Regions from separate parts of the Homo sapiens genome. Here all the other regions are linked to region 1. Evidence: fine-mapped expression QTL. A gene starts in region 1. Each other region holds a variant in brackets. All regions are shown on one strand. Distances are between the middles of the regions. Region 1 holds the start of CA2 (carbonic anhydrase 2). Region 2 overlaps LINC02849 (long intergenic non-protein coding RNA 2849). Region 3 has its middle 180 kb from the start of CA3-AS1. Region 4 overlaps LOC124901971 (a long non-coding RNA gene). Region 5 has its middle 99 kb from the start of LINC02849. Region 6 overlaps LOC105375937 (a long non-coding RNA gene). Region 7 has its middle 23 kb from the start of LINC02849.

The links.
Region 2: its variant is fine-mapped to the expression of CA2 in whole blood (INTERVAL, PIP above 0.99).
Region 3: its variant is fine-mapped to the expression of CA2 in whole blood (TOPMed, PIP 0.98).
Region 4: its variant is fine-mapped to the expression of CA2 in whole blood (INTERVAL, PIP above 0.99).
Region 5: its variant is fine-mapped to the expression of CA2 in whole blood (TOPMed, PIP above 0.99).
Region 6: its variant is fine-mapped to the expression of CA2 in whole blood (TOPMed, PIP above 0.99).
Region 7: its variant is fine-mapped to the expression of CA2 in whole blood (INTERVAL, PIP above 0.99).

The regions. Positions count from the first base shown.
Region 1 is chr8:85,461,672-85,465,739 of GRCh38, forward strand. CA2 (carbonic anhydrase 2) reads left to right here and starts at 2,336. Exons shown (of 7, transcript NM_000067.3): 1 at 2,336-2,444; 2 at 3,601-3,798. The coding sequence starts at 2,411. CA3-AS1 (CA3 antisense RNA 1) reads right to left here and starts at 3,244. Exons shown (of 3, transcript NR_121630.1): 1 at 2,911-3,244; 2 at 1,065-1,130. RefSeq lists enhancers at 1-544, 2,445-2,944 and silencers at 1,572-1,831, 1,902-2,221, 2,332-2,801.
Region 2 is chr8:85,851,292-85,855,359 of GRCh38, forward strand. LINC02849 (long intergenic non-protein coding RNA 2849) reads right to left here. Exons shown (of 3, transcript XR_001745725.3): 1 at 4,013-4,068; 2 at 3,219-3,385; 3 at 1,228-1,481. Among named protein-coding and RNA genes, the nearest start is that of LINC02849, 2.1 kb to the right of the region's middle. The variant A/G (reference allele first, on the strand shown) is at 2,454.
Region 3 is chr8:85,640,578-85,644,645 of GRCh38, forward strand. It overlaps the pseudogene REXO1L8P. Among named protein-coding and RNA genes, the nearest start is that of CA3-AS1, 180 kb to the left of the region's middle. The variant T/C (reference allele first, on the strand shown) is at 1,703.
Region 4 is chr8:85,895,861-85,899,928 of GRCh38, forward strand. The region is part of intron 1 of LOC124901971 (a long non-coding RNA gene); the gene reads left to right. Among named protein-coding and RNA genes, the nearest start is that of LINC02849, 43 kb to the left of the region's middle. RefSeq lists a silencer at 520-814. The variant G/T (reference allele first, on the strand shown) is at 2,337.
Region 5 is chr8:85,952,210-85,956,277 of GRCh38, forward strand. No RefSeq gene overlaps it. Among named protein-coding and RNA genes, the nearest start is that of LINC02849, 99 kb to the left of the region's middle. The variant C/T (reference allele first, on the strand shown) is at 1,899.
Region 6 is chr8:85,515,379-85,519,446 of GRCh38, forward strand. All of the region lies in intron 3 of LOC105375937 (a long non-coding RNA gene), which reads left to right. Among named protein-coding and RNA genes, the nearest start is that of CA3-AS1, 52 kb to the left of the region's middle. The variant CAT/C (reference allele first, on the strand shown) is at 1,770.
Region 7 is chr8:85,829,900-85,833,967 of GRCh38, forward strand. No RefSeq gene overlaps it. Among named protein-coding and RNA genes, the nearest start is that of LINC02849, 23 kb to the right of the region's middle. The variant T/C (reference allele first, on the strand shown) is at 1,760.

The DNA.
Region 1 (4,068 bases):
TCCATTAAAAAAAATTGACCAGGAAAATAAAACAATGCTAAGCCAACCACTGTAATACCAAAAACGCTGCTAAAAAATTTAGATTGCTTCTGAGTAACCAAAGGTGAACCACTCTCCACCCTGTGGTGAACATGTGACACTCTCCCTAACAGCAGCTCTGTGGGGAGGGCTTGCTCCCACTGAGAATTAATTCACTTTCCAGAAGTGAGAGATAAGGAAAAATTCCCATGACAATAATCCATTTGGTGAACTGCAGTTTGGTGGTGTTTGAAGTTTTACGCATATTTAAGAATCAAACATGCTCTTACTTCATCCCTGTTAGGAAAGCCACAATCCAGTTTCACGGAAAATGAAAGACAAGGATTCCTGCTGATCAAATCGCCTGGCTCCCTCCACAGAATCCCGGGAAGCCACTCTACATTCACAAACTTTGCACTCAATTCTTGGCACCTATCAACGCCATATCTCCAGGGCCAAGTGAAGAGTCTCATAGCAACTAAGTTAATATTTGAAAATTATGTAAAGAAACAAAATTACATCAATGGGCCCCAACAGATACAATGCACCTACAGAGGCACAAATAAAAGCTTCTTCTTTGCTACAAACTCCATTTTGTAATGGTCCTAAAAATTTAAAAACTTTATTGCTGCTTTCTTGCCTAAGAATTCCCTGTGACATCAACCCAAAACCCACATAAGCAGAAGTACACAATTTTCTAGAATCTTAGAACAAGTAAGTCTAAACATGAATCATATTTGTTTGGATGAAATTGACTGAAATAAATAGTAAAGAGTGATTTTGAGATACATATTGCAAAAATGTCCACTAATAACTTATCCTTGTATTTATCTGTATATTTTCAAAGGTAAGTAATGTGATGTCAAGGCCGACACAATCACATTAAACTGTGTCCTGCTTCCCCAACTGTAACTCTAATACTATTGCCCTCAGAGATTGCAGAGACCACAGAACCGAACTCCTTCCCACAAACCCCCGGATTTTTCTGTGGCAAAATCCCTTGTAGGAAATGAATTCTCTCTATATCTCAAAACAGCCTCACTTACCCAGTAGGCCCTGTAAGCACAGTGTCTCAGGTCCACAATACTTTTAGATGCCCAGGAAAATGTTTCCTTTTAAAATAAGAACAAAAAAGAAAAAAATTAGGTGTTGGTTAAAGAAAATGTTTAAATATATAATATTAAGATATTTATCTTTATGTCAGTGTTGGTATAAATGCGTGTTTATGAAAAAGGGACCCACCAAGGTGAAATGCCGTAGGACCCACAAATGTCATAATGCTGGCTGGCCTCAAAATGTCCTTCCTATTAAACTATTTTGAATGATTCCTAGGTATGCCAGATGCCAATTTTTCTTGGCCAGCCAGGGAACGTCTCATGTCTTTGGAAGAAATTATCTTTCTCTTACTGGATTCTTCTGAGAAAAGTGATTTGTTAAAAGTTTTGGTTATTTCAAATCAATATGTACTCAACTAGGACGTCTCCTCACCCACGTTAATTTTTTAAAGAGGAGGAAAGTAGGAGAAGATGAGCGCTTCATGTAAGGCTCTGCCAGCCTACGAGGAAATGCAATCCTCCAGGCTCGCCCGAGCGTGGGCTGCGGGCAGGGGACTGTGGGGCCGTTGTCTCGTTTTATTCCACGGCCGTGCAGCAGAGGGCGCGTGCCTCTCAGCACTCATGCTGCGCGCTCCCCTGCGCCTCTAGGATCGTATCCCTATTTGCCCCAAGGTCATAGCTCCTAACCCAGCTTGCCAGCCCCAGGCCGGGGACACCAGAGACTGAGCCCTTCGCGCTGGAGACCCCGGCGCGGGTGGGGCGGGAGGGCTCCGGGGCCAAGAGACAGGTCACAATGGGGACAGGGGACGAAAGGCGCCGGGGGTCCGGGTCCCGAGCAGTCCCCGCCGCCGCCAGACTCCGCAGCCGGGAGGGGGATGGGGTGCGCGTAGAGGCTCCGCGGCCCGGGTTGGACGGAGGAGCCCAGGAGCCACCGCAGCCGCCGCACGCCCAGAGCTCCGAGCTTCGCTGCCAGCCCAGGACACCGGGGCCCTGCCGTGGGCCGAGGGGAGCCGGGCGGCGGGAGAGGAGCCCCGGAGCCCCGGAGCCCCGGAGCCCCGCCGGGCGCCAGCCGAGAGGGCGTTTTCCCCGCCCCCGGAGACTCGCCCGCCCGGCCCGCCCCGCCCCGAGCGCGGGGAGTTCACCTCCGCCCGTCACCACCTCCCCTTGTCGCCTAGGTCCACCCGAGCCCCCTCCCCCGGGCCGCCCCCGAGCACGAAGTTGGCGGGAGCCTATAAAAGCTGGTGCCGGCGCGACCCGCGGACACACAGTGCAGGCGCCCAAGCCGCCGCCGCCAGATCGGTGCCGATTCCTGCCCTGCCCCGACCGCCAGCGCGACCATGTCCCATCACTGGGGGTACGGCAAACACAACGGTGAGTGCCGGCGACGGCCAGCGCGGGGGCGCCCCGATCCCCGATCCCCGATCCCCGATCCCCGAGCCCGGATGCCGGCCCGGGGCCCGCAGCGCCCGCACATGCTGTTTACCGCGGCCGCGGGGAGTGCTGGAGGCTCAGGTGCGCCCCGGGCGCTCGCTCCGCTCGCGGCTCCGCGGCGCCGGGGATGTCCCCCTTGCCCCAGCTGCGAGGCCACTGTGGAGGAATCCCCGCGTCCGCCGGAGGCGCGTAGGGCCCGAGGGAGGGGAGGCGCAGCCCTGGCCGCGGGACCCGAGGACAGTCCCTCCCGGGTCCCGACCTGGGGATCATTTTAACCGGACCTAGGAGGAGGCGGGAAAGGGTTGTAACGGAAAATTCTAGTTGTTGATCGCAGAGAAATTAAGAGACTCCCCTCCCCCCTCCCCCACCTTCCACCCCCACCCCACCCCTCCAGCTTCAGCACCACCTGTGGCTAAGGCGCTCAGCACGAACTGTCCCGGGGCATTTTCCAGTGCTGGTTTGAATCCATGGCTCTGATTTCCGAGTTTTCCCTTCATCTCTCGACTTCTAATGTTAGGGGGTCGGACATCAGGAATCGGGTTTTATCTTGGCCTCAGATCTGGTTCTTCGGAGCCAGCGGAGCAGAGGAGCATGCGTCTGGCGCACCTAGCGCATCTTTGGAGGGTGTGGGGCTTCCCAGGTAGTGGGGAACCCTGACGGTTAAAGGTGGGGTGGGCCCGGGCCTGGGCAGTGAGGAAAGGATCCAGACCTCCTTGAATGTCTTAAGTGAGCTTGCATATCCCAAAATCGCAACCACAAGCCCTGACATTAGTGTCTGCCCGATTTCAGTTGCTGAATTTCAGTAAAACGACCTTAAAATAGCTAATATTTATATAGCACTCAGTGATCTAAGAGCTTTACATATATCGATTCTAATTCTTACAGCGACATCTATGAGGTAGATTTCTAATTATCCCATATTACAAATGTGGAAACTGAGGCACAGATTACGTGTTTTCCCAAAATTTAGCCCATTGTTAAGTGATGCTTCTAAAATTGGAACTGAGCAGATTGGCTCCGGAATGATTGCTCTTCTCTAGGGGTCTGGGTGTACCTTTCCCCACAATGGGGGATTCACATGTCTTCTTTCCCCCAGGACCTGAGCACTGGCATAAGGACTTCCCCATTGCCAAGGGAGAGCGCCAGTCCCCTGTTGACATCGACACTCATACAGCCAAGTATGACCCTTCCCTGAAGCCCCTGTCTGTTTCCTATGATCAAGCAACTTCCCTGAGGATCCTCAACAATGGTCATGCTTTCAACGTGGAGTTTGATGACTCTCAGGACAAAGCAGGTCAGTGTTTAGAAAATAACTTGTGTCTTTTAGCCAGTAGCTGTTTTCCGAGCTTAATGGAAGGAGCCAGGAACAGTGGCAGGAACCCTCTTAATAATACAGTTTGTCTCAGGACTCAAGGATGCCACCCTGATCATTTTCATTAGGTCTCAGATTCTGAGAAGTAGGCTAATTAGTTTGAAGTGTCCCGGGGCCGTTTCTTCCCTGTAAAACCCTTGGCTTCTATGAAGGCCATTGAATAACTGCGATATGCCTGTGAAAAATCACAAA
Region 2 (4,068 bases), 390 kb after region 1:
CTTCCTTCCTTCCTTTCCTCCTTCCTTCTTTCCTCCTTTTGACTCAAAGTCTCACTCTGTCGCCCAGGCTGGAGTGCAATGGCACAATCTCAGCTGACTGCAACTTTCACCTCCTGGGTTCAAGCAATTCTCCTGCCTCAGCCTCCCAAGTAGCTGGGATTACAGGCACCTGCCCCCACACCTGGCTAATTTTTGTATTCTTAGTAGAGACAAGGTTTCACCATGTTAGTCACGCTGGTCTCTTTGGCCAGGCTGGTCTTGAACTCCTGACCTTGTGATCTGCCCACCTTGGCCTCCCAAAGTGCTGGGATTATAGGCGTGAGACACCACACCCAGCCTCCTTTCTTTTAGAATATAAATATTCATTTAACTATTCTGTTACTCCAAGCAATTGCTAAGTCAAAAAACCTAATTCCCAAAAGATGTGTAGGTTGTTTGTTGCCATGGAGCTGTTGTAATTTGTACAGCCATTAATTTAAAAAAAAATCTTTGAAACTTTTTTTTTTAAATCTTGTCTGGTGTGCCATAAGCAGTGAGTTTATCTCAACACTAGTAGAAAATTAGCAGATTCAAAATAGCCAGAAGGAAAAATAGAGAGATTGAGAACTTAGAAAGCTCTGCATGTTAACTCTATGGTTGGTTGTAGATTTTTAACAAGCTTAGAGAGTTTGAATAATGGCCATTGAGCTCTGAATTTTCCTTGACATGAAGGAAAGTTTGCTCATTAGTTTAAAAATGTGCATGAGAACAGGCCATCATATGTAGCCAGCTGGAGTCTCAGAAAACCTGGCATGCCTTAATGTTTGAGAATCTCACTTTCTTTCTTATTAATCTCTCAAGAGCAAAGAAAATCCCATAAATCCTGTCAGAGAATGTCAGGAATTTGGACTAGTGTTTCAGGTATTCGCTTTTTAAATTAGTCATTCTGTGTCCGCCATTTAGGATGTATATTTTCGCTCTCAGAAGCTTTTCAGAAATAAGCTAGAGAAAAGAAGATCCAAGTTACTTACAGACATGTGTAACTAAACCAAAATCAGAGTGTTCACAAAAACTTTAACCCATGTATGCAGACCAAACAAAACATTAAACTAGGTGTCCAGAACCAATGTGAATTCACCAGAAAAGTCATGCCTGAGAAACAATATAAATTCTGTAAAAACTAGAGTACTCTTATCTTTACACCAGAAAGCGTTTGCAAAACAAACAAACAAACCCCCAAAACTTCCATAGTTTTAAGAGGGATGCAAGTTCCTTTATTTAAGGCTGCCTTAGTACCAAACCAAATCCTGAAGAAAGTCAAAAAGCCTCTACCAAAAAGAGACTCAGCCTAAGAGAAGATTCACCAGGTCAGAAAAGACAAGGCATGCACGTGGCGAGCTCAGAGATCTCAAGTGAATACTGCACACCAGTTCCAAGAATCGCAGATTCCTTCTAAAAGTGCTCTTGCTTCAGGTCCTGCTTCTGGACACATTTATGTCAACCTAAATAACAAACAGAGAGATGCTCTTTAAAAGAAAACATTTATTCAGGGATAGGACACTATAACTATTCAGAAATAGGACACACACTGTATGTGTGCCATAGTAAACTGTGTGAGTATTCAGGGAGGTAAAGGAAGACAAAGGTTTTTAAAAGAAAAATGAGGAAGATTACATAATTATTGCAAGATAATTATCTTTGCTACAAGGATCAATAACAAGGTTGGACAGGCAGTTGCTGGGCAGATGTCTTGCAGAAGTTTTTCTATGTAAAGTTGCAATGGCCTTTGTGCAAGGTTGTGGTTTTTGCAGTCTTATGTGATCATTCTTACTAAAAGTCATTTATGCATAAGAACTCTCCTTTCATGACTTTCTTCAGCTGTATTTTTTTTTCACAAGTGACTCCATTTTGATGTTAACAATTCTCACAACTTAAAGTCAACTAGTTGTAAATGTTAGTCACATCTATAAAATACATTCACAGCAAAGCTAGACTAGTGTCTGACCATACTACTGGGCCCCATATCTCAGCCATGTTGACACATAAAATTAACAGTCACAGCATGTGAAAACTGAATGGTGCTTCCATGTAACCAGAAACAAAACAAGTGACCAATGAGATCCTTGTGGCCATGAAAAGGTTGCCTTCACATACTTCAATGTATATATAAATCACTGGAGATTTTGTTTAAATACAAATTCTAACCCACTAGGTCTGGGATGGGGCCTGGGATCCTGCAATTCTAACAAGCTCCAAGATGATGCTCATGCTGCTCATCTGTGTCTGAGTAACAAGACCTCTGAAGACCTGCCTGAGAGTAGTAGATGGCCAAAAAGACAAGACAGGCTTAATAAATGGCTGAAACTGGGGCACAAGATAAGCAGGAGACTCTGAATATGAAATTATAATGTTCAAATTTGAGGTGAGCCAGAAAAGATGTAACAATTGCAGCAACTTCTGCAAAGCAATAGCAG[A/G]AAACCTCAGGACTCTCTACTGAAATAATTGGCTGCTTCTGGGAAACGACAGTTTCAGAGTCCCAGTGACTAGTAGGCAGAGACCCATATGAAATATCAGAAGAGCACTGAGCATATTAACCTCGAAACAATGCAATGGGAAAGCATTAGCTGCGTTTCCGACATCTCCAGATAAATGAAGGGGCTGTGATTAAATGAGACCACACTGGTGTTCCCATGTAGTAATTAGTTACGTAAGTGTCTCTAAGTCAGTGGCTCTCAAACTTTTCCACCCAAATTCCCGTAATAGCAGAGGAGAGCTAAAAATGTATTCCCAAGAGCCTGTCTTAACAAAGTCCACAGCCCTTTAAAGCTGCACATTTTCACTCTTAAAGGCCTATAAATGTATTCTATATGATTTAGGGTTCTCCAGAGAGACAGAATCAATAAGGTAGATAGGTAGATGTAGATATTTGAGAGGGGATTTATTAAGAGAATTAACTGATGGGATTATGGAGGCTGAGAATTCCCATGGCAGGCCATCTGCAAACTGGAGACCGTGGGATACTGGTAGGACAGCTCAGTCCAAGTTCAAAAGCCTCAGAACCAGGGAAGCAGATGAAATAATTTTCAGTCCAAGGCCAATGGCCTGAGAACCCCGGGGGCGGCTGGCATGTCTTAGAGTCAAAAGGCCAGAGAGCTTGGAGTGCTTATGTCCAAGGGGAGGAGAAGAAGAACACGCCACCTCCAGGAGAGAGAGAGAGAGAGAGAGAGAGAGAAACTCACCTTTTCTCTGTCTTCTGTTCTATCCAGGCTCCCAGCTGATTGGATGATGCCTGCTGACATTGAGGGCAAATCTGCTCCACACAGTTCACTGACTCATGCCAATCTCCTCTGGAAACCCCCTCACAGACACACCCAGAAGTGATGCTTTTCCAGCTCTCTAGATATTCCTTAATCCAGTCAAGTTGACACCAAAAATTAGCCATCATGTATTCCATTCCATAAAATAACTGAGTTTGTCTTAATATAAAAGTATTTTATATTATTTGCAATCAGATAAACTGAATTTCCAGCAAACAGGACTCAGGCCTTCTCATCCTCCTGGTACACATAATATACCACCTAGGGGAACACTTAAGAACTTTGGTCACCTGCATATTGGTCATCTACATCAGAGGCTGACAACTACTTCTGAGGGCAGAATCTAGCCCACCATATGTTTTTGTAAATAAAACTTTACTGGAGCACAGCCATACCCACTATGGCTGCTTTCATACTACAGAGGCAGAGTTGAGTAGTTGCCACAGATACTGTAGGGTCACAAAGCCAAAATTATTTACAGGAGGTTCTCAAATAACATCATTTCATTTAATGTCATGTTTGTTGATGAGAAAAGAATTGATTCCCAGCCAGATCTAGACAAGGGGAGTTCGCATGTTCTACCATTGTCTTCATGGGCTTTCTCTGGGCACTCTGGTTTCCTCCCACAACCCAAAGATGTGAACGTGAGATGGGTTGGCGTGTCTAAGTTATCCCAGTAGGCATGAGTGTGGGTGTGTGTGTGTGAGTGCCCCTACCATGGGATGGCATCCTGTCCAGGGTGGGTTTCTGCCTTGCTCGCTGAGCTGCTGGG
Region 3 (4,068 bases), 180 kb after region 1:
CAGAATACTATTCAGCCTTAGAAAAGAAAGAAATCACGTCATTTGCAACATGAATGAGCCTAGAGGATGTTATAGTGAGTGAAATAAAGCAAAGGCCAGGCATGGTGGCTCATGCCTGTAATCCCAGTACTTTGGGAGGCAAAGGCAGGTGGAGAACTTTAGCCCAGGAGTTCGAGATCAATCTGGGCAGCATGGTGAAATCCCATCTCTACAAAAAATACAAACATTAGCCAGATGTGATATTGGACGCCTGTAGTCCTAGCTACTCAGGAGGCTGAAGTGGGAGGATCTCTTGACCAGGGGAGGTGGAGACCATGGTGAGTGACCCGTGTTTCTCTCAGTGTACTACAGCCTGCATGACAGACTGAGACCCTGTCTCATAAAATAAATAAATACATAATAAAGTTTTAAAAAGCAAGCACAGAAAGACAAATACTGCATGATCTCACTTATATATGGAATCTGAAAACATTGAACTCATAGTTGTAGAGAGCAGACGGGTGGTTGCCCGAGGTAGGGGCTGGGGAGGGATTGGGGAGATGTTAGTCAAATGATACAAAATTTCAGATAGGAATACTGATAGAAATCTATTGAACAGCATGCAACTGCAGTGAATAACTATGTATTGTGTACTTGAAACTTGCTATAAGAGTAGATTTAAAACTTGTTCTCACAACAATAAAATCAGTATGTGAGGAAATGAGTGTGTTAATTAGCTTGATTTTGTCATTCCACAATGCATACATATAGGAAACCTCATGTTGTACCCCATAAACATATATAATTTTTACTTGTCAATTTAAAATTAAAATTTAAGTAAATTATAAAAATAAAATGAAATAACATACACTAAAAAAGACTTTTATTTATTAAATCTCCACAAGAAGTCTAAGTTATGAAGGAAAATAAAATTCCAGGAACAGTAAAATCAATCAGAAATGCCCTACTTCAGTGCATTCCGAAATTTGTCTGACAGAGTGGAAATCCAGTTCTTCACTAAGTCATTGTTTTGGAACAGTTAGTGAGTGTGTATATATGTTTGTGTGGGCTCATATACACAAATTAAATTCATGGTAATGTAAGCATTCAAAATATCAGTTTCATTTAGTTATGTACACATACACAAACACACACCCCCCACACACATTTATAAAATCAGCCATTCCACCAAAACTAGCTACTTAGAGTCTCATCTCTCACTGAAGATTCAAAACAGAAACGTGGATTTAGGGAGGCATGATGGTTCATCCTCTCTTGGAGCCCAGTTGGAAGTTGACTGACTGATTCAGACATTATAATTGATTGGTCTGGGTGAAAGAATCCACTTTGACTCTTAATTGAACACCTACTATGTGCCATTGTTTTAAGGCTTGCCATGTGTTGCTTCATTCCTTCCTCACCATTACCTTATGATCACACTTTAAAGATAAAAAAGTAGAAGCGCAAAAAAGTTATTTGTCCAATATTACAAAGCTAGTAAGTGGTGGAATTTGAATTTGAACCCAGATATCTAACTCCAGAGCCTAAGTGCTTCACCCATCTCACTGTGGTGGCTCTAGAGAAAAACAGGTAAGTGCACATTAAGAAGCAAATGCCTCTGAGTTGTTCTTAATTTTTTTTATTTTAAATTTTAAAATTCATATAACCATTTATTCTGCGCCTGCGCCGGGGGTGGGGAAAAAATCGGGTGCGGTAGGGGAGG[T/C]TCAGAAAGCCCCACAGAAGGAGAAGAGGCCCAGGAGAGAAGACTGTCAGGAAGCTGGTGGGCCTGGGGGCTGGCCTTGTTCTCAGAGGCCAGGGAAGTGCAGGTGGGCTGAGTGAGGTTAGTGGTGTAACGACAGAGGTCTTCGACAGGCAGAGGGATGGGGACAGGCGCGAGGGGCCTTGGCAGCGACCCGGGGGAATGGGAGTTGGGGCTCGGGCCTCGGGGAGGCGATTGGTTGAAGGACAGAGGTCTGGGAGGGGCAGAGCGATGGGGACATGGACGGCGGCCCGCTGCAGGGACTCCGGGGCACTGGGAGTCGGGGGTCGGGGATAGTCTTGGCTTTTTGCCCTCTCCTGCCGCCTGCTGCTCCAGTTTCTTTCGCTTTGCGGCGAGGTGGGCAGGGTGAGCTCTCGGGACGAATGGCAGTTTTGGAAGAGGCCTGGGGCTAAGGACAGGCCAGGGCGGCGGGAGAGGCGGACCGGTGGCGTGGCTGGATCTGGGCGCGCTGTCGGACCTTCCACATCACCAGCTGCAGGCAGGCGTTTGCGTCCTCGCTGGAGTTGTGGCCGTCCTGGCTGTTCTGGATGATCTGTGCCAGGTAGTCGGCCGCGAGATTCCTGAGGGAGCGCTTGTAGGGGAAACCCAGGTAGTGCGGGAAGAGCACGGCCGTGTCCACCACGGTGCTGTGGATGAGCTTCAGGGCCAGCAGGTCGCTCTCCAGGCTGTGCCCGATGAGGATGGTTTGGGCGCTGAAAAAGCTCAGCAGGATGGCTTGGACTTGGGGCAACGTGATGCTCGTCTTGGCGACGTCGGCCTCGGTGACTCCGGAAAACCTGGTGTTGTAGTCCACGATCTCGTTGTCGGGCTTGACGAAGGTGTCGTACACCACTCGCATGTCGGCGTCCACCACGGTGACGCGGGTCAGCTCTAGGCCATGCGTGGTGTAGCACATCTCACAGTCCAAGGCGTAGATTCCTGGATAAGCGTCTCTGGACAACTCTTTCTTGAAGGTCTCCACGAAGCCATCGAGGCTCTCCTTGCGGCCGTCCCGCACGTGCTGCTTTGCCACCTGGCAGCCCACAGAGCCAGGAGCAGCTGCACAGCAGGTGTACTGGCTAACCCGGCCTCCAGCCACCTGGCTCGAGCGGACCCGCCCCCAGTGATAATAACACAACTGGTCGCGTACACAGCGGCCCGAGGAGGACACCAGGTACTCGGTGCCACAACGGCAGCAGACCCTGCAGGAGGAGTCGCCGGGCCCCTTCCCCTGGCCAGTGAAGAGGACGGCGCCTCCGGGCCGCTCGGGGTGCGGGAAGGGGTAGCCGTTCTCCTTGAGCTGGTCCTGGGTGAGCAGGAACTCCTGGAGGCGGCTGTACAGGGCGGCCCTGCTGAGGCCGGGCATGGAGCTGGGGGTCAGGCCCTTCAGTCTCTTGAGGGTGTTCAGGACCACGTTCAGGTACCTGTTCTTGTTGGGGCTGCAGTCGTAGGCCACCTTCTCCTCGTTCAGCGCCTTCTCCTCGGCCTCCTGCTTGGAGGCGCAGAACTTGAGACACTCTTCGGTGAACAGTTGGAGATAGCCTCGGCGGAGGACGGTGGGGACTTGGCACCCAGAGCTTCGGAGGATAATGGGTTTCTTCAAACTCGGTAAGGATGGACGACGGACGATTCGCTTAGAGCTGATGGTGGCGGTGGTCTTGCATGCCATCCCTGACCTGTTGCGCGTCTTCCCTGGCTGTCTGCCGACCTTGGAGCCACTGGAGCGTTGGCTACTGCTGGCCACCCGGGTTCTCTTGGCATCTGTGTAACCTGTGACCAAGCAAGGGCTGGAAGAGTGGGCGATCGTCTTCCTCTTCCTGGGGGCTGAGATGCGGACTCCCGAGGGCCTCTCTGTCAGCCTTGGGGCGGCTGGCAAGCGGCAGGCCGATCCCCTCTGCGCAGGGAAGTAGCACGACTCCGTCACCATCTTGGGCCACGCTGGGGGCACCGCCGGACCCCTGTTCTGGGGCTCTGCCTGGATGTCCACAAATGCTGAGGCCTGCTTGTGCATCTGGGGCACCCAGAGCCCGAAGCTCTGGGCAGGCTGATGAGAGGGCAGTGGGAATTCTGGAGCCTCGAGGGCCGCCTCCTCGGCCACCTTCTTAGTTTCTGGGTATCCAGGTGGGAACCAGCAGGGAGCTGTGGCTCGCAACATCTTGCTGCCTTCGGGAGCACCGGCCTGGCTCTGCTCCTCTCCCAACTGGCGGCTTCAATGAGTGCTGCGGCCGCCACGCGTCGCCTTTATATACGCACAGGGCAGACTGGGTGGGACTTCTCCTTGATAGGTTGGTGCTTCAGTCCAATCACCCTGAGCCTCATCTTCCACCAGA
Region 4 (4,068 bases), 430 kb after region 1:
GGATAACAATGCAATATAGTTCACCAAATTAATTTATATAAGTTGTATTGTATACACAAATTAATTGAGTCTATGAACTCCTTCACAGCATTTTGGTGAGCGAAGATCAAAATTATCTTATTTTTATCTTTGCCTCATTCCCAGCACCTTGTACATGGCAAGGGCTCAATAAAATTTAATTTCTTTAGGGAAGTTGTACCCTAGAGTTGAACTCTTGCTTTCAACCTATCCCATTTCTTGTAAAGCTGTGAAGGCAGCTATCCACAGCAATGAAGATTACAGGTAAAACTAGTCCACAGACCTCTTATGTATCTAGAAGACTTGTTGAAGATAATGATTATGATGAAATTGTAATTCTTGATTTCTTCTTTTAGCAACATCTTGCAAAGTGGTGTTCAAAGAATGCTATTCCTGTGAGGTATAAAAGTAAATTAAATAAATAAATAAATAACTATATATATATATGTATATATATATATAAATAGTTATTCAATAGTTAACTATGCCTGCCTCATTTCATATTTAAATGGATCAACTAATAATACATTTCAGGAATGAAATATTACCATGAACTTATTTTTTTCCTAAACCATTTTTAGCTTTCCTGATTCATGGTGAATGTGACAGTGTCTATAGCACTGTCAGGGGACCAGATTAACCCAGGCAGCGGGTGGTAAGTCAGCACCTTGGAGTTTGTGGTTTATGCAAACAACCTCACTGACTTGAATGTGTAAAAATCAAAGAAATCCCACAGTCTTGGAGGTAATAGATGATGTTGTAGCAGGACACACACCAGAAAGGAGGCATTGCTTTTGTGGCTAAGACTTATGACCTCCCTATATATAAAAATAACCATGGTTCACCCTAGAGACTAATATAGTACTTGTTGGTTAACTGGGTACTAATCTAGTGGTAAAAGTAAGGTTGATTACCATTCAAGCAGTGGAAAGCCTAGACCAGGGTTTTTTTAACCATTTGTCTGCCAAGGACTTCTTTGAGAAGCTAAAGAGAAGAGCCATAAAATATTTTTAAAGATGAGTTATGCTCTTGGGAAAAATGTTGTCTCCTGGGATACCAGGCTAACAGGTTCTGGAGTGTTCTTTCTCTCCTGTGGTTTTATGATTTTCATGTGCAATTCATTATTTGTGTGTGTTGTGTTCTTTCAAAATCACTATTGGAAAGTTGAAAAACTTCTTAGAATTCCGACCATTCAGATAAGGTCCCCAAAAGCATTTTAGAGCAGAGATACTGAAGCCCAAGAATCCAAACTTCCTGGTAACTTTGGCAAAGCTTTTTTATATATAAATAATCAGAACATCTTGAATTAAATAAATTCAGGGTGAATTATATAAATTTCAACATATCTGTTTTTTTCAGTAAAATGAAGAATGCATAAATAAGGTTTTAATGTGTACTAGAATTTGATCTACTTTCTATATGCTAAACCTGGGCCCTCCTAAGTCACCATTTGTCAATAAGAAATCAATCATAGAGATCCTAATTATACAGCCTAAAGCAATAGAAATATTTTATGAATGATTCTATGTTTCAAAAACTCTTCTATAGAATAATATATTCACTTATTACTATATTTTCCTCTAAAAAGTAAGAAAGAAAGAAAAATTAAAAAAATAAAATAAATAAAAAGTAAGAAAGAAAAAGCTCAGGACACAAAATCTAGCAAAAGGATTAGATCAGCTGTAAGAATTCATCTGAGGGGACTATTAATAAGGAAGAAATATTTTTAAATTTTTGCTATTAGACCTCCAAATAGAATGGCAGATCTACCAACACTTAAACCTATGTAGAGTTCTGATTATTCCTCTTTTCTAAAGTACACACCTTAAATTATTAACTTTTAAGTTATTCATTATACCTTAAAAATTCAGTTGAGCATGTTCTCATAAAGCAAAAGGAATATTTCAGTCTGGTTTCAGCAAGATGTGATTTAGGGAACCTCTCAAAAAATGGTGGGGAGAAAAGGGATTCTAAGATATATAACTGGCTTCTCCTGAACCCAAAATACGGAGGAACTCTAACATCTCATCCAGTTTCTCTGTCTTCTTGTCTCCTTTGTGATATGCTGAAGGCTTTATAAACACAAGGTTGGAGTGTAGTCAGCCAAGGTTTCAAAGGGCAGGCTACTTCTTACTCTATTTTTCTTAGGACTTTGATCTTATCTCTTCTGCTTATGCCAAATCAAGCTTCTGTTGCCCCAACAGCTACCCCAGTTTAGGAGCTGAGGAGAACAACAACACTATTTTTATTGGAGAGACCCTGACTAGAGGGTGGGCATGGGAACAGGCAGGCTAAACTGCAGAGAGCAGGCTGAGTGA[G/T]CCACAGAGTGATGTACAGTCATCCCGTTTCAGAGAACTCCAGGGACCATCAGAATGAAGTCAGATTTCAGTGCAAAACTGTGTATTTGGCCACTGTTTCCATACAATAAGGTAAAAATTAATCATAGCAAATGGCTGCTTATTAATAAAACCAAATTATTAAAATGGTCTAAATTGTAATGCCTTCTTAGTCATTCAAATTGCCCTGGGTTAGACTTAAAATTGACACGCAGGTTTAGAAATGTAACTCTAGCTATCAGAAGGAAATGAGAAGAGATATTCTGTCATCTATTATTCTTTATAGGGGAAAACTGATTGATCCAAGGACAAACCTATCTCCATTACTTGGCCGGAATCTAAGAAGTAAACCTATGAGGATTATATATATTTATGTCCTAATCTGTCATGCCAACATAATCATGATGTGCCTTTATGATATTCTTCAGTCTCTCTTCCTCAATCTTCATATCTACTTGGTCACCAACATTTATTAATTCTACATTAGAAATTACTCTTGAATAAGGTTCCCGTTCCATCATCCCCTGTGTCACTAACTTTAATTTACTCTTGTGGGTCATCCATCTACAAGCTGCCAAGGTAATCATCCCAATAACCACAGGATAAATACACTCTCTTTGCACACAGGATAAAGCCCAACACCTTGGCAGCGTCTACAGGGCCCTTTGCAGTATAGCATCACTTAAACATCATCTAACCTCATTGTCACCAAGGCCCCCTGTATTATTTATACACATGAGGAGTCCTCATTCTTCCTCCAACATCCTTCTCAGACTTCCAGCTTGAGAGAGACATTTTCTTGGTCTTTCCTTGGTGAATTCCTAGTAATCTTTCAAGCACCAGTTCAAATGTTATATTCTCTAAAGTTTTCTTTGACCCACCCATCTGCCATCCTTACTCCCACAGGTACAATATCTGGGCTTCCTCTTCCTGCAACATTTTGCTTGCATCTCTTTTGGAATACTTAACACGTTTTTCCGCCATGGTACAACATAGAGGCCAACTTCAAAGTTGAGTCTGTGACACGTCGTTGTGTGACCTCATTCAAACCACTGTACTTCCCTGTACTTAATTTCTTCAACTGTAAAATGTAAATGAATATGGCTACTAAACAGAGCTGTTGTAACAGTTCAATAATGTATCAACACAGCTCCTGACCATGGTGAAAATTCAGCAAATAGAACTATAATTATTATTATGAATAATTGTTATTAATTATATATGTAAATACCTATATAAGGCTTATTAAAACTCTGTGAAGGTAAGAACTGTGGGTTTTTAACACAGTCTTTATCGCACATACACTTAAATTATGTTTTCTTGCTTTATCTCCTGGTTATTTGAATGGATTTTCTGTTTTCCAGTGTAACCCAGATGTAATATCCTTACCAGATTCTTGTCTCTGGCAAGCATACCTAATCTGAAATGGATTCACCGAAGCCCAGCTAAACCATGACCAAATACAGGTCCTGATAAGGAATATACTATCCAGCAACTACAGTGATTAAGTGTTGTGCTAAGAACATTTATTCTAAATATTTATAGGTCTTCTTTTTAAAAATAGCCTAAAGAATTTTGGGGAAGATGATAACAGTGGGTAGAGTGAGTGTTCAAATGTGTACATATCAAGAATATACATTATCATAGAATCACTTAAATATTTAAATTGTGTTTATATTGCTCATTCTCAGTAACTCTTTTAGATGCCATAAAA
Region 5 (4,068 bases), 490 kb after region 1:
TATTGTTATCCCAAGTCTCCTCCCCTCCCATGCAATTGTCTGTTTTATTTGATTATTTGTTTGTTTTTGAGATGGAGTCTCGCTCTGTCACCCAGGCTGGAGTGCAGTGGTGCATCTCGGCTCACTGCAAGCTCCACCTCCCGGGTTCACGCCATTCTCCTGCCTCAGCCTCCCGGGTAGCTGAGACTACGGGCGCCCGCCACCACGCCCAGCTAATTTTTTGTATTTTTTTTTAATAGAGATGGGGTTTCACCGTGTTAGCCAGGATGGTCTCGATCTCCTGACCTTGTGATCTGCCAGCCTCAGCCTCCCAAAGTGCTGGGATTACAGACACAATTGTCCTTTTTCCCATCAGCTTCCTACCTGGAATTTAAGGCCTAGTTTGTCTTATTCTGACACTCTTCTTTCCAGGAGGGGGACAACTCCATTTAAGAGAGAAAGAAGCTGTGTTAGCCAAAATTAAGTGAGGGCTGTGAACCCATTCCTATCACCTGGAACATGCACACTCCCGCTAGATTAGGGCAGATAGAATTTCAGGTCCTGCTACCACACCAATGGTTGTAAAAATAGAGGCCAAATATTTAACATTGTGTTGAAATTTCAGGCCAAAGTAATGTAAGCCAATCAATACATACAAATTGTTGCCCCTGTTCTTGCACTGATCCATTTCATTTGTAAGATGCATATTCTCACTGGCCAGAAATTCAGACTAAGTTTAGTCATCACAACTAGTGCTCTAAGCACACAACCAGAATCTAAACACATACCCATCCAAGCCACCACCCTACCACCCACAGAGCTGCCATCTCATTCTTACTTGATTCTTGCACTTTCAACAGGATTTCTTCTTCTCCATTGTCTTCAACCATATTTCTTTTCTTAGTTCACAAAGCCTTAAGTTCTCTTCAGCCAGCTTACTAATTTATTCTTCCTATCAGAGCGGCATACCAAATTCTTAACTAAATTAGATGGTATAGGGAAGGCACATTATCAAATCTAAAAGAACAACAAGATGTAAACTATTATTTTTAGCAGAGATGGCTGAAAATGGAGTAACTTGAAAAAGGTGAAGACAACCTTCATGTACATCCCTGACTCAGTTTACCATTTGCTTACTCTGCCAGGTGGTACCCAATAGCTCCTCAGCCAGAGTGAAATTATCTATCTAATGTTATCTCATCACCATTTTTGTTTACTTTTTAAAAATGTATTTGTCTAATTAGAGGCTGTGCATGAAAACAATCTTTTTGTAAAAATATAGATAAAGTTCAAGTCTGTCACTTTCATCAATTCCACTCAATTTTTGTTACCTGCAACAGAAAAAACTACCATTGGCATTTTGCCTTGTATCTTCTCAAACCATTTTCTATGCATTTACATACATCTTCGTACATATAGAAAATTAGTTTTGTTCTGTGAGATTTTATTTAGTTTTGTTTACAAAACTGGGATCATTCTGTTCATTTAGTTTAGCAACATGTTTAAGTTACTATGCCTTGAAAATATTTTCTCTTTTCCAAATATAGGTCTTCCTTATTCTTTCATCTGCTGCATGGTTACTTCATGTGAATGTACCATAATTTAGTCATGAGTTTCCTTAGGTGCTTGGCAACTTTTACTTTCCCCAATAGTGCTGAAATGAATATTCTTATAAATGCCACTTTATACATATATGGGAATATTTTTCCATCATCATTAATATTAATAAAAATTCCCAAATTTCTCTGGAAAACTACTTAACCAATTTGAGTGTTCTTCATTTCTCTATGTCCTCATATAATACTTAGATTAGCTCCATTTTTACTTAATTTGTCTTGCTAAAGAGGCAAAAAATCTCATTTGTTTTAATCTGCATTCCCTTGTTGCTGATGAAGAGAAACTTCTTTTCATATTTTCCA[C/T]TGTTTCTCTTTTCCTATCCTTGTCCTATGCTCATTTGACTATTTAGTTGTGTTTTTCTTATTGATTTGTAAGAGTTCTTTATATAGTCTAAATACTACTCCTCCATCTGTTTTCTATATTAATAATATTTTCTTCTTGTCTTTTCTTTGACTCTTAACTTTTTTATGGTACAAGAACACTGTAGTTTGTATAGAGTTCAATTATGAATATTTTTATGGTATTTGCATTTTGCAACTTGCTTAAAAGACACTCCTCATATCAGATTTGTAAACATATCCTCTCATGTTTTCTCTTAGTTCTTTAGCAGTTTTAAATTTTATTTAACTACTCTGCCTAACAAAAGAAACTAGCAACAGACTAAAGATAACCTACAAAATGGGAGAAAATATTCATCCCAAACAACTGTGTTTGTTTTGGATACAAACTGTGCATCCAACAAAGTCTAATATCCAGAATCTATAAGGAATTTAAATCAACAAGCAAAAACAAGCAATCCCATTAAAAATAGGCAAGGGACATGAACAGATACTTCTCAAAAGAAGACACACAAGTGGCCACCAAACATATGAAAAAATGCTCATCATCACTAATCATCAGAGAAATAAAAATCAAAACCACAATGAGATACCATCTCATACTAGTCAGAATGACTATTATTAAGCAGTCAAAAAATAACAAATGCTGGTGAGCCTGCAGAGAAAAGGAGGCTTATACACTGCTGGTGGGAATGTAAATTAGCTCAGCCACTGTGGAAAGCAGTTTGGAGATTTCTCAGTGCTTAAAACCAAATTAACATTTAGCCCAGCAATCTCATTACTAGGTATATATCCAAAGATATACATATGCACTTGTATGTTCATCACAGTGCTATCCACAATAGTAAAGACATAGAATCAACTTAGATGCCTATGAATGGTGGATTGGATAAAGAAAATGTGATACATATACACCATGGAATACTATGCAGCCATTAAAAAAGAGTAAAATCATGCCCTTTGAAGTAACATGGGTGCAGCTGGAGGCATTTATCCTAAGTGAATTAATGCATGAACAGAAAGCCAAATACCACACATCCTCACTTTTAAATGGGAGTTAAACACTGAGTACACATGGAGATAAAGATGGGAACAATAGACATTTAGTACTACTAGAGTGGAGAAGGAGGGAGGGGGGCATGGACTGAAAAATTACCTATCAGTACTATGCTTACTCCCTGGCTGACAGGATCATGAGGTTTGTACCCCAAACCTCAGTATCATGCAATATACCCATGTAACAAGCCCGCACTTGTAGTCCCTGAATCTAAAATAAAAGTTGAAATTATTTTAAAACAATTTTTATTTAACTTTTTAATCCAGCTGGAGTTCACTTTTGTACATAGTGTAATTTAAATAATTTACCTTTTTTCCTCAAATGAAAAATTAGTTGGCACAAAATTATTTACTGAGTAGTTTGTACTTTTCACTCTGATATGAGATACTGCCTTTATCATTACTAAATTTCAAAGTATACATTACTCTGTTTCTGAACTCTCTATTGGGTTCACCCTATTGTTCTATTTTTTAAGGAATGTAAGGCAGTTTTGATTATTATAACTTAAGTACATGCTTCAATATATGAAAGATCAAATTCCCTCTTATGTTAAAAAATAATTTTTTGATTATTCTTTCATGTTTTATTTTCCAGATGAATTTTGCAGTTAGCCTATAACATTCTATAATTTTCTTGTTGGAACTTGTATTTAAACTACTTTGAATTTATAAATGTCACTTTTTTGTACAATATATAATTCTCTAACTAGATGTTAAAAGCAATGTAGATATAATTTCCATCAAGAAAAAAGTTTCTTTGCAATATCGAAAACTAGAAAGTGAATCTTAGATTTAATGTAAAAAGTAATGAAGAATCTTAAATGGAAGAATGAGATGAAAGATTTGGGTTTAGAAAGATTTTGCTAATTGTTTCAGAAGCTTCCTTAAAGCAAGGTTTCAGTTAGTATTAGGGTTATGATAGGAATAGTCTTACATAAGGGTAAACAGTTAGATTGTGGCAGCAATCTGGCATGAAAGGAAAAGAAGCCAGCTAGGGTAGGGTCAAAGTGTTTGGAGGGGAAAGATGAATGTGAAATATTTCCAAGAAAGAAATAAACTATAATCATACCCTTGTTTG
Region 6 (4,068 bases), 54 kb after region 1:
ATTGCAATCCAGTATAATAATGAGTGTCTGGTGTTATGGAAGCAGAAGGACACCTCTAACTCAGGCTGTGGTCAGAAAATTTAAAATGTGAGGATAATGCTTGAGTTTAGAACACCGGAAAACTTGGTAACCTGCCAAGTAAATAAAATGGGAGAGGGGACTTTCAGGCAGAGAGAATGGAATGTACAAAGGTGAGAGACAAAAAATATCGGAGTTTTGGGAAATGCAAGTGAGTGTGGTGGCAGCATAACCTCTGTGTGTGTGTGTGTGTGTGTGTGCACGCATCTGTGTGCACATGTGCACAAGCATATATGTACACAATATGTGGAGTGATGGGGAAGGAATCAATTGAAGGTTGAAAATGAAATCAAAGAAGCAGGTAAAATCTAACTCATAAAAGGTTGTGCCTATCAACAGTTTGAACTTGGTAGGGTTTAACAATTAGTTTACTCAACCCAAGTTGCCTCCTTTACCTGTTCTCCACCATAGCACTTTCAAACCTTTGCTGGGCAATCAGCTCTGTGAGGGTAGTAGCCATGACTCTTAGTCACGGTTATATCTCTGGTGACAAAGCATAGTAGCTGACGCATGGGAGATGTCCAGTAACTACAGGTAGAATGAGTCTCTCTTCTCAAGCTTTTAGCTCTATGCCAACTCCTTCCTCCCAGAAGGTGACTTTAACTTTTTTTTTTTGAGACCGAGTCTCACTCTATCACCTAGGCTGGAGTGCCATGGCACGATCTCGGCTGACCGCAACCTCTGCCTCCCAGGCTCAAGCGATTCTCCTGCCTCAGCCTCCCCAGTAGCTGGGCTTTCTGGCGCCTGCCACCACACCCAGATAATTTTTGTATTTTTAGTAGAGACAGGTTTTCGCCATGTTGGCCAGGCTGATCTCGAACTCATGACCTCAAGTGATCCTCCCGCCTCGGCCTCCCAAAGTGCTGGGATTACAGGCTTGAGCCACTGCACCTGGCGATTATAAGTTCCTAACTCAGGAAATAATCATAATCAGACATTGTGTTACTTTCCTAGAGCTTCTATAACAAAATGTGACAAACTAAGTGGCTTAAACAACATACTTATTGTCTCACAATTCTGGAGCCTAGGAGTCCAAGATCCAGTGTCAGGAGAGTTGATTCGTTCTTGAGGCAGTGAGGAAGAATCTGTTCAATGCTTCTTCCCTACCTTTTAGTGGTTTTGGGGTAATCTTTGGTATTCTTTGGCATCTAGACGCATCACTCCAATCTCTGCCTTCATGTTCACGTGGCATTCTCCGTGTGTGTGTGTGTGTGTGTGCACCTGTTTCCAAACTTCCCTTTGAGTAAGGACACGAGGCACTTTGGATTAGGACCCACTATATTATTCTCATTGTAACTTCATCACCTCTGTAAAGATCCTATCTCTGAGTGAGGTCACCTTTTGTAGTAATCTAGGTTAGGACTTCAACATACGATTCTTGTGGGGAGTGTACAATTCAATCCACAACAGGTACAAACTTCAAAACTACCTTCCATCAACTTTCATAATTTATTCTGCAAATAGAGTTTACTGTCCCCATTTTAAAGAGGAGAAAATTGGGGCTTACCCTCTTTCTATGATTTGATCAAGTTTCCACAGCTAGTAAGTGGCAGAGTTTTAACATTGTCTTTAAATAGCCAGATTGAATGCAACCAAAACAAACATTGCAGGAAAGAATTACTTGTTTTATATGTAGGTAGCATGCAATATAAGAGTTGTTCATTCATTATTTTACTTATCTGATAAATAAA[CAT/C]ATTGAATATTTATGATGTACCAGGCACTGTGGTATGTTCTGAGGGGACAAGAAATTAGTAAAACGTAAAGGTTGACCTTAAAGCAATTTGCCATTTTCATGTCCAAATTGTAATGTCAGAACATATAAACATTGATCGAACATAAGGGGATGTTTTCCCAGATTTATCAAACTAAACTCAAACTACTTTACTTCAATTTCTTAGATACTCTATAAAACAACAAGGCAGAGAAATGTAGTGGGTTAATAATACAATATAATTTGAAAAGGTTGACTTCGAACATGTTTAAAGAGTGTAAAACATTTGGCAGACAGTTTAATAACCTGTTCAGATAAAAGAAAACACGTATAAAAATAAATACACAAAAAGCTAAAATGATTGCCAAACCTCATGTTTACTCACCCACTGTGATAGGATCTAAGAATGCTGAAAAGCAGCAAATTTGTCTTAAAAGGCAGTGTATTTTCAGATTCAGCAAATATTTACTGATGCCTACTGTGTGCTGGACTGTTTCCTGGGCGTTTTCCATTCTACCTGTGTGATAGTAAGCATCTTACCCCATGAGTCTCAATTGCCCATCTATAAAATAGAAACAGTAATAATACTTTCCTCACCACATTGTTATGAAGAGCAAATGAGATACCATAGGAAGAACTTGGTGCAGTGGCTGGCATGTAGTAGGTTTTTTTTTTTTTTTTTTTGAGTTAGATTCTCATTCTTTCACCCAGGCCAGAGTGCAGTGGCAGGATCATGGCTTACTGCAGCCTCAATCTTCCAGGCTCAGGTGATCCTTGTACCTCGGCTTCCCAAAGTGCTGGGATTACAGGCATGAGCCACTGTGCCCAGCCTGTAGTAGCTTTTCAATAAATGTTTGTGGAATCTGAATCTGAATCGTATAATTTTTCCTATTATTCTTAGACTAAGATTGGAGAATTAGGGCCAAGTGTGGTGGCTCATGCCTGTAATCCCAGCATTTTGGGAGGCCAGGGTAGGAGGATGGCTTGAGCCCAGGAGTTCGAGAGTAGCCTGGGCAACATAGCAAAACTTCTTCTCTACAAGAAGTACAAAAAATTAGCTGGGCGTGGTGGCCCACGTTGGTAGTCACAGCCACTCGGGAGACTGAGGTGGGAGGATCGCTTCAGCTGGGGACGTCGCTGCTGCAGTGAGCCGTGATTACACCACTGCACTCCAGCCTGGGCAACAGAGTTAGGACCCTGTCTCCAAACAAAAACAAAACACAGCAAAACAAAAAACAAAGATTGGAGAACTTTAAAAAAATATTGCGTACTTTAAATCTGAAAGTTCTTTCATAGCCTTATTATAAATATGCATTGTTAGAGACAGATGCAAACCGTTTTTATTTTTTTTTGTACAAGGCATATAAGAAAGAATAAGAATAAATTGTAACTTGAATTACAACATTCAAGACAAACTATTCTTAAATGTATTGGAAAGAATTACGTATTCCCTGGGTTCTTAAAAAGGGTACAGTTTTTCAACTCTTTTTTTCTGTTATGCATTGCATTGGGTTACGATCAGAGCAATTTAAATGATGCAGTCACATTTTCTATTTAAAGTAATAAGGTTCAAATCTCTTAGAAATAAAGCAAAGCAATATAGCCATACTGCTGGTAATAACACTGATCAATTTGATCTTACAAATATGAAACGAGTATGCCAGCATATCATGTAGCATGTGCCAACAATTCTGTAGTTATATATAAATTTGTACTGTTATTTGTTTTAAATTTATGCTCCTGTCTGTTTCTGAAAGGACTTGAGACAGTGTATAAATATACGCATGGTTTAAATTTACAATGATACACACTCATAACATAACTCAATAAATCCCACAAGAAACCTAAGTAACTTTTGTCTATCAGTTTCTGGGAAAGGTCTGCTTGTTTTCTTGAGGGAAAAAATAGACTCAACTTCTTCTTATTCATTGTTGTTTCCTTGGAGCTCTCTTAGGGAACCTATAGCTATCTGGGTTGTGGCTCACCAACCCATGTGATATGAGAGAGCAGAGGACTTTTATTAAACTCACATGTACTGTTGAAATCTTGACGGGGTACATTGTTAACATGGATCTGATATCAGTGAATAATATTTTAGGATTATAGATCTGGAATAGGTATATTTAAGAAATAGATCTAGAATCCTATACTTGCCTAGAAGTAAGTTGCCACCATAACTTTTATGGCAGAAAATGACACTCCAAATGATGATTTTCCATTTTCCTTTTGGTAAAATGCTTTTACTAAATAAAAGCAGAATTGTGCATCTTTCATTCATT
Region 7 (4,068 bases), 370 kb after region 1:
AAAGAACTTGCAATGTTCCAGTTATTTATCCATAATACCTTCCTCATAAAAATTCAGGAAAGGGATATTAGTTTGGGGAAATAGTTTCTCCAAAGTCTAGAAAATCTTGAAATAACTCTGCCACCTGTGAAATTTCATCTTCTCACTGAGAATACTCTCACCTCCCAGATATATTTTCTCTCATGTAACCAGCTGTGGGTACACAGTGAGGGTCTGGCTGTCATTTGCTGTTTTTCCTGCTGACCACTTCTTTCTTTAGCTGTACTTTCTTTAAATGCAGTGAAAGTCTGCATCTGGTCAAAGACTCATTGTGTCTTTAGGCCTGTGAGGCATTTTTATTCTCCTATTATGTACTGATTTAATTAGGTCATTTCTCAGAACTTTCCTGACCCCCGCTGGCACAGCACACAAAGGTCTGCAGAATTTTCTACTTCTATAAATCCTCAAGCATTCAGCCAGCACCTGTGAGTGCTTTTCTCAACTCAGACCCTCACAAAATACAGCTTTTCTCAACTCAGACCTCATTTTAATATAGAGGATGTGTGTGCTTGAAACCCTGGACGTTATTTTCATTGCAGTTAGAAAGTTTGTTATCAAATCCTATTTATAATGTTTTTGAACGGTGGCCTCATGTTGAACATAACAATGATGAAGAAATACAAAGCAGCCTGCATAGGTGGTGACAGAAGCGTGAGGACCCGGCAAAGTCAGGGAGAGTTAAGTGGACCAATTATGCAATCTGCGCAACAGAGACAAAGGATCTGCAGCATGGCTCCACCCATGCATCCAAGACAATGATCTCCTGCTGAAGAACTTCTAGACTGGCCTGTGGGGTTCTTTTGGTATCAGACCATTGTTCTTTGCTTCCCCATTTATTGCTTCTGTAACACACAGATTGGTTTAAAGCTTTTAAAAATCTATTAAATTTTCTCTATACCCCTGTTGAAACAAATTCTATGGTTAATTTCTTACATACTACTTTAAAAAATATTTTTGTTCTTACTCATCTCTCAGAGATTACTCATTCATGCTAATGCTTCTGGTCAAAACATGTGTGTTCCATTTTTCACACTATTCTTCATCTTCTAGATTTCAATTTTGACCAATTTTTAGTCTTTTAGGTTATAGGCCCACGAGTTCTAAATGCTAGTAAGGTATTAATATGGACTCCATTGATCTACTGCTGAAAGAAGTGAAAGGAAACTCTTGTATTAGATAATTTTAGAAGTCTGAGGAGGGCAACTGTTACTAGTAATTAGCACCTTATCAATATAACATATAAAATGAGATGATGGATGAGAGAAATAGTGGGAGAAAGTGCTTGCATCAGTGTTCTATTGCAGCATAAAAAGTTACCACAAACTCAGTGGCTTCAAACAACACAAATTTATTATCTAACAGTTTCTGTAGGTTGGAAGTCCAGGAATGGCAGGGCTGGGATCTCTGCTCAGGGGCTGATCAGGCTGAAATGTAGGTGTCTACAGGGGCGTGGTTTTCAAATGGAGTGCTTTCAACCTCACTGGTTGTTGGAAAAGTTCATTTTTTTCTCAGTAGTAGTTGTGCACTCTCCATTTTCCTGCTGGCTTTTACCCAGGGGCCATTCTCAGCTTCTAGAAGATGCCACAGGTCCTTGCCTCTGGCCCCCACAGGCAGTTCATGCATGGAGGTTTACATTTTTCTGGGCCAGCCTGAGCATATCTCTCTGAACTCTTCTGCTCTGGCCATCCAGAAAAATTCTCTGCCTTTAAAGGTCTCATTG[T/C]AGGTTAGGCTCTCCCAGGATAGTCTCCTTATTTGGTATCTTAATTACATCCAAGAAATCCCTTCACTTCAGCATGCGAATTGGTGTTTAATTGAATAATTGGGAGAAGGTGCGAGTACACCAGGGGCCCTAAATCTTGGGAATGTTTTAGGATTCTGCCCACCAAAATGGTCTGGGGAGAAATGAAGAAAACTTTTTTATGCTGAATATCCAGTGTACGGCGAATGAGCTGCTTGTGCCTAGTAACTGTAAGTGATTGAAGTCACAGCCTAGGTGCAGGTGGCCTCTCTGAACAGATTCCTGGGTTAAAAGGGCTCCCTTTCGTCAACCTCCTCTATCTACTTCCTTTCCACTGATGGCAAGTTTTACAAAGAAACCCACCCTACACTGAACATAGGGGTTCTTTAAGACTTCTGGACTTGATATGCAATCTACAGATCTCTTATTTGAGTCGCTTTTTAAAAATTAACTTTATTATTGAAGTATGATATTCATATAAAAAGTGACCTAATCATAAGCGTTCAGCTCAACAAATGATCACAGAGTGAACACACCCACATAACCACACTCATCTCAAGAAAGAGAAGCATCCCAAAGGCTCCCTTAATGTCCCCTCCCAGGCTTTATATCCTCCTACTTCTCTTAAATTAACCATTACCCTGATTTTTGATACCATAGGATTAGGTTTGCCTGTTTTGTGAGCTTTTTTATAACTAAAAACTTATAAATAACCTTTTCGTCAGACGTCTTTCATTCAATATTGTGTTTGTGAGTTTCCATTGGAAGAACATGCCACAATTTATTTGGCCATTCTATTGTTGATGAACCTTTGCACTGTTTCCAGTTTTTGACTTCTACAAATAATTCTGTGAACATCTTTGAACCTGTATTTTGGCGGGCTGTGCACACCTGCCTGTTGTGCATATTCCTAGGAGTGGAAATGGCAGGTTATAGAGAAGGCATGAGTCCTACTAAAACATTTACTGCCAAAGAGCATCTCCACCCTTAACTGTGGTTAATGTTCCAGTTTGGAGACTGTTTTACCCTCTATGCAGAGTAAACTTCCAATCTGCTACTGCAGTGGAAAGGCTCAGCCATCTACCTAGCGGAGTGAGTGAGGAAAGGGGTCTGGGGATTCAGCAGCCTCTTATAGTTTCAACTCATTCTCCCTATTTTAGCCAGCCCATCTCTCCTCAACCCCTTCAAGAGTTACCTGATGCTGTCAGCTTCAGAACATTTTGTCTTCTTTCATGGCACAAATTAGATTGCTTTTCAGCTTTCCTTATCATCAGTTTCGGATTCATTTTCCCCAGATCTGCTGCCTTTTTCTTTTCTCTTTTCTTTTCTTTTTTCTTTTCCCTCCCCTCCCCTTCCCCTCCCCTCCCCTCCCATCCCATCCCTTCCCGTTCCCTCCCCTTCCCTCCCCTTCCCTCCCACCCTTCCCTTCCCCGTCCCCTCGCCCCTCCTCCCATCTCCCGTCTCCTCCTCTCCCCTCCCCTTTCCCCTCCCCTTCCCTTTCCCCTCCCCTTCCCTTGCCCCTCCCCTTCCCCTCCTCTCCCTTCCCATCCCCTCCTCTCCCCTCCCCTTCCCCTCCTCTCCCCTCCCCTTTCCCTCCTCTCCCCTCCCCTTTCTCTCCTCTCCCCTCCTCTTCCCCTCTCCTCTCCTCCCCTCCCCCCCCTTCCCTTCCCTTCTTTTCCTTTTTTGAAGATAAAATCTCACTCTGTTGCCCAGGCTGGAGTGCAGTGGTATGATCTCGGCTCACTGCAGGCTCAACCTCCTGGGCTCAAGCAATCCTCCCACCTCAGTCTCCAGAGTAGAGATGAAGTTTTGCCATATTGCCCCAGACTGGTCTCAAACTTCTGAGCTCAAGCAATCTGCCTGATTCAGCCTCCCAAAGTGCTGAGATTCCAGGTGTGAGCCATTACACCTGGAAAAAAGAGGCTGCCTTTTTCATCTCTCCTGTTTTCGAGATTTTTGATGCTGCCATGCCCTCTCCCATTTTTTTGCCCCTATGGTTTATACCTTTAAGACAAAGTTCATTGTCTTTTGTTTTAATGAGGAGCTGGAAGAGAACAAAAGAAGAAAGCACATGTGTTTAACGCTATCTATCTGGTGAGGTAATATTCCTTTAAATGTTCAACATTCCTCCCGGAGTAAAGGGGTAAAGGAAGTTTCTTTGCATTATTTGAAATGGCTCATGGCTTCACAAAATAAGACTGTAGCCTGCTTCCTGTGGGTAGGATTTTGTTTCTCTCTTTTGTTATTGTTTTGGAGACATTTATGCATTTTTATTTTGCTTATAATGTGTC